2 separate regions of the Homo sapiens genome follow, and region 1 is linked to region 2. The links come from fine-mapping of genetic effects on plasma protein levels. A gene starts in region 2. The other region holds a variant in brackets. All regions are shown on one strand. Distances are from middle to middle. Region 1 overlaps ST3GAL3 (ST3 beta-galactoside alpha-2,3-sialyltransferase 3). Region 2 holds the start of B4GALT2 (beta-1,4-galactosyltransferase 2).

What was found. A credible set is the group of variants that fine-mapping cannot tell apart. PIP is the chance, under the fine-mapping model, that this variant and not a neighbour inherited with it causes the effect. Sun 2018 read protein levels with aptamers (SomaScan).
Region 1: its variant is the best candidate, but not a certain one, in a credible set for the plasma level of the B4GALT2 protein (Sun 2018, PIP 0.67).

The regions. Positions count from the first base shown.
Region 1 is chr1:43,911,996-43,914,495 of GRCh38, forward strand. The region is part of intron 9 of ST3GAL3 (ST3 beta-galactoside alpha-2,3-sialyltransferase 3); the gene reads left to right. Among named protein-coding and RNA genes, the nearest start is that of ARTN, 21 kb to the right of the region's middle. RefSeq lists an enhancer at 1,722-2,500. The variant G/A (reference allele first, on the strand shown) is at 1,230.
Region 2 is chr1:43,978,000-43,980,499 of GRCh38, forward strand. It overlaps B4GALT2 (beta-1,4-galactosyltransferase 2), which reads left to right and starts at 1,211. Exons shown (of 7, transcript NM_003780.5): 1 at 1,211-1,512. ATP6V0B (ATPase H+ transporting V0 subunit b) reads left to right here. Exons shown (of 8, transcript NM_004047.5): 8 at 1-296. The coding sequence ends at 8. RefSeq lists enhancers at 1-504, 505-1,095, 1,096-1,687 and silencers at 1,105-1,204, 1,475-1,584.

The DNA.
Region 1 (2,500 bases), 66 kb before region 2:
TTCAGATATTTAGAATTAAATTTTAGACACGTGATATGTGTGTAATACGTCCATTTGTAATTTTGTCCTTGGCCCAACAATGTTAGGGGTTGAACCTACATGGATATGGTGGCAGTGGCTGGAGATGAGGCTAGGTGAGCAGGGGACAGATGGTGAAGGGTCTTAAAAGCCAAAGTCTCATCAAGGAGCCTGGACCTTATCCTGAGGACCAATAATAGCAGAAGCTAACAAGAGCTGACTTTGTGCCAAACATATTATATGCATGACTTCAAACTGTCATAACACAAAAACACTATAAAGGAGAGCTAGTATTACTGCCCTTATTTTATAGGAGAGGATGATGAGACTTAGAAGAGTAAAGAACTTGCTTAGGGGTACAGAGTTAGAGTAGTTGGGGGTGTGAGGGTTCACAATCAGACCTGCACTCTTAATTGTCAACACAAGCTGTTGCAGTGGGCAGTGGAAAGCCACTGAAGATTTTAAGCCTGAGAATGTCGAGATCAGATTTGTGCAGGGATGTGAATAAACTGAAGGGAAAGCAAGAGGGAGTCAGAGAGAGCTGATGGCTGTTAGAGTCACCCCAGGAGAGTTGGTGGTCCGTCCTAAGGCAGTAGCAGCAGGGAGCATAGGCGTGGACACATCTGCCTACTCTTGCTGTGAAAGCCTACCATGGTTAATCTCTATTCCCAGACCTGTGAGCACACCAGGAAACATTCTCTCAGGAGCCTGGTGGGGAAAGTGCTTTCTTCCCAGATGTTTTCCCCATTGCTCCTGGATGTTCTGACAAGAGCAGAACAGGTTGCATCAGCAGGAGTCTGGCAGCTTCACACAGGGGAGCTGGGTCCAGACTTGACTGAGGCAGGGACATTCCTGAAGGAGGAGGGATTTGACAAGGAATGCAGCCCACAGCTGGCCTTGAGGAGAAGCTGGACCATGCCGGGCCAGCAGCACTGGCTGGCTTTGTAGGCCTCTGTTGTGTCCTGTGGATTGGGGAAATGAGATGTGAGAAGCCTTGGGCCAGATGTGGACACTTGCAGGCAGAGGCCTTGTGGAATAGGACTGTGTGCTGGCAGCAGGGCTGGCAGTGTCTCCAGCAGCAGGCAGACCTCCCCACCGGGAGCCAGGGGGAAAGGCTGGCTCTCCCATTCAAATGCATGTACGTGTGCAGGTATGGATATGTGAATGTGTTCCGGCCTCTCCGGTGGCTGATGTTGCTGACCACACCCTCC[G/A]CTTCACTCTCCTGGCCTCTGTGACACTCACTATAATCATAATAAGTAAGATTTATTGAGCTTGCTGTATACCAGACCCCGTGCCAGATGCTGTAAAACGCACAGCATCTCTAATCCTTACAGCTATCTGGGAAGTAGGTCTTCTCAGCCCTATTGTATGCACAAGGAACTTGAGGCTTAAAGAGAGGACACAATGTGCCCCTGGTCACAGAGATGTGGAGCTGGGATTAAGCCTCTGTTTTTCACACTCCCAAAGCTGCAGTGGTACACAGATGTTCTGTGTATGTGCCTGTGGACGTTTTTCTGAGAAGAGGAGTTACAGCTTTTTTTTTTAGGAAACAGGCTGAGGTTTTGTTGGTACTTGATATTTTTGTGGCTGGGGAAACACGGAAATGCCCAAACCATATCTTGGTCTTACTGTTTCTCCTTTCCCTGAAATCTCTGAGGAAACTACACCAGGACAGTGGCAGACAAGAAAGAATAAAAGGAGCGCTGGACTGTCGCTGTGTCGGGCTCCCAGTTCTCCAGTGCAGGGCTCCCTGGGATCGTGACCTAAAACAGGGCTCCTTCCCCAGGGTCCCAACATGACTCTCAGCCGCTGCTGGCCGAGTAAGAACCGAGGGCAGTAAGACCTCAGCGCAGTGAGCCACGAAGGGCAGAGGCAGAGGTGGCCTGCTCCAAGGAGGAGGCCCTGCCCAGCTCACCCACCGCCATGCAGAGGCAGCAACTCAGGAAGGGCTGCCTTTGTGGGAGAGAATTTTCACCTCACACCAGTAATCGTGACACACTCAGTATCCTCAAATCTAAGCAGTCCCATCAGGCATTTCTCCTCCCAGGAAAGAGTAAAGATGAGAAGAGACGTGGCAGCTTTCCCCTCCCCATCAGATCGCCAAGGGGGTTGAGTTAATAAGCGAATTTCCTGCCATTTGAGATGGTGATTAAATCCGGGACTTTTAGCATATGGAACAGACCAAGAGGGATTGTTTCAGAGAGGGCATCTCATGTGCAGAAAAACAGGTTGTGAAGTCAAACGCAGCTCAGATTCTCACCAGCTGTGCGTGTACCCTGACGAGTCCCCTCACCATTCTGGGCCTTAGTCCCCTCTGAAAAATGGGACATGGGCACCAGAGAGACTCCTGAGAGCTCCCTTAGTGCTCTTAGAGGAGACAGGGGAGGTCTCCTTTATCTTTGACCCCTAACCCCTCAGACTTCCAGAGGCGGGAACTGCAGCGATGATACAAATGGTGTGGTGGAAAGAATGCCGTTTTGGA
Region 2 (2,500 bases):
GTGACTAGATGATATGTGTGGGTGGGGCCGTGCCTCACTTTTATTTATTGCTGGTTTTCCTGGGACAGCTGGAGCTGTGTCCCTTAGCCTTTCAGAGGCTTGGTGTTCAGGGCCCTCCCTGCACTCCCCTCTTGCTGCGTGTTGATTTGGAGGCACTGCAGTCCAGGCCGAGTCCTCAGTGCGGGGAGCAGGCTGCTGCTGCTGACTCTGTGCAGCTGCGCACCTGTGTCCCCCACCTCCACCCTCAACCCATCTTCCTAGTGTTTGTGAAATAAACTTGGTATTTGTCTGGGTCAGTGCAGCTTCTGTTGCCCTCTTGCGTCACCGTTCACAGAGGAAGGGTAAAGAGGCCTGTACGCCTCAGCCTCATGCCAATCCCTTGTCAGCTTTCTGACTGCACACTTCTGATCTGCACAGAGCTTGCTCCTAGGTGGGGAGGCACGGGTGCTGGGTGGACTCTAACCCCCAAACAGACTTGTTTGGGGATGAGGGAGTGTGCAGATAGGGGCCCCTGGGTGTGTTTGTGCCTGTAGTCCTTCTAGGCCCGTTTGCTCAGGGCTCTGACTGACCACCATGCCCGAATTGTCTGACAGCATCTACTTACCTGGTTGTACAGTCGGGCACCATCATCTCCGTCCTTGTGAGGCCTGGAGCCTAGGCAGTGGTCTCTGCCTCCAGTGATGGTCCTGTCCTTCTAGCAGCAGCCCCTCCCAGAAACCTCTACTCTGATCCTTGTTCCCAGGGCCCAGGGCAGCTCCTCCCACCCCATCCAATCTCGTTTTCTCCTTCCCTGACCCTGTTTCCTGTTACCCCAGAAGCCCCAGCCACCTCCAGCCCACGCCTTTAAGGGTCCTGCCCCCTCTCTGCTGGCCGACCTTGAATCTTGGTCCAATTAAAGAGTTGACAAATCCCTAGCCCCGCAGCCTGAGTCCGCCCAACCTCCAGGTCCCCTTCCTGGGGAGTTCGCGCTCCAATGCAATCCCCACTCCCCGCTAAGGGACTCCACGGTCTGCACCCGCTCGCCGGTCCGACCTCTAAGCCCACCCTTTGGACGAGCCTGACCCATTTCCTCCCGCGCTCCCAGGTCCGTGCCTCCTGGGTGCCCGGGTTCGGCCGCCGGCAGGGCGGGCTCGCAGCGGCGCGCGGCGGGTGCGGGCGTGCTGGAGGCGGGGGCCGCGGGGGCGCGCGCGCGGGCGCGCGGGCCGGGCCTGCCCCTCCGAGGCGCCGTAGCGCGGGAGGGAGGCGGCGGCGCTGTGGTCCGTGGGTCCGCCGGTCCGTGGGTCTGCCCGGCCGCCCGGCCCCGCCCTGCCCCCCGGGGCGGCTCGGCTCCATGGCCCGCGGCGGCGGCGGCGGCGGCGGCGGCGGGAGGCGACCCGGGGGCCGCGGTGGCCGCTGACCGGGCGGCGGGAGGCGGCGGGGCCGGGCCATGGGGGACGGAACCGTCCGCAGCCGCCGGAGCCGGGAGCCCTGCCCAAGTCGGAGCGGCGTCCCCTGCTGAGCCCCGAGCGCCGGGTGAGAGGAGGGCGCGCGCGGCCCCCACCCAGGGCCCCGAGATTCCAGACCCAGCCCCGCGAGGGGCACCCCGAGCGCGGCCCCGAGATCCCAACCCAGGAGCCGGTGAGAGAGGCGCCGGCGGCCAGACCCCGGCCTGGCTGCCCCCACCCCGCCCCCACTCCGGCGCCCCTCCTGGGCTTCTCCGCCCGCGTCCAGCCGGCCTCCCTCATTGTCCTCGCTCGCCCCGGCCTCGTGGCGCGGGGAGGCGTTCCATACACGTTTCCCCTTGGCCTTTGCCTCATCCGCTGCCCTCCACCCACTCCCCCTGCCCCCAGGCTCCACACCCACCCGGTCTGTGCGGCCTGCCCGTCCGCGGGTGCCACGTGTTCAGCCTGCCAGCCCCGCCCAAACGCACCCCTCAGCCTGGCCGCCAGCCTGACCCAGAACCCCTGCGCCGGAGGGAGGGTGGGAATGTCTGCACGTGGGTCTGGGTGTGAGCTGTCTGAGAGTCTGGATGTATGGCTGTGGAAGTCCAGGAGCAGTGGCCTTGTTTGTGAGTGTGGGACTTAGTGTGTTACTGTCACCCGGGTGTGTCTGTGACTGTAGTTCTCTGTGTGTCTGAGTGTGGGTGACCAGCTGGGACCAGGGTGTCCCTGTGATTCTGTGTGCCTGTGAGACTCACCCTGCTCCCTGAAGCACTGCCAGAAGTGGCTGCCGCTCTCTTGGAACCACAGCTGGAGCCATCGCCCAGGCAAGACCCCCTTCCTGCCATGCCCAGTGCTGTGCCCATCTCCAGGCCCAAGCATCCCGTTCCGGGAATCAGAACCAGCTGTGCTGGGCAGGACCCAGAGTCTTGGTCCCAGTCCCAAGGGGCTGGCTTTGAGGTCTTAAGTGAGGGGTGTCCCCTGCCTTGCCCCGTATTTTGACGTTTTGCTCCAGTGGGAAGGGATTCTGTAAACATCCAGTCTGTATTTGGGCCCCCCGGATGCTGAGGGCAACTTCCCAG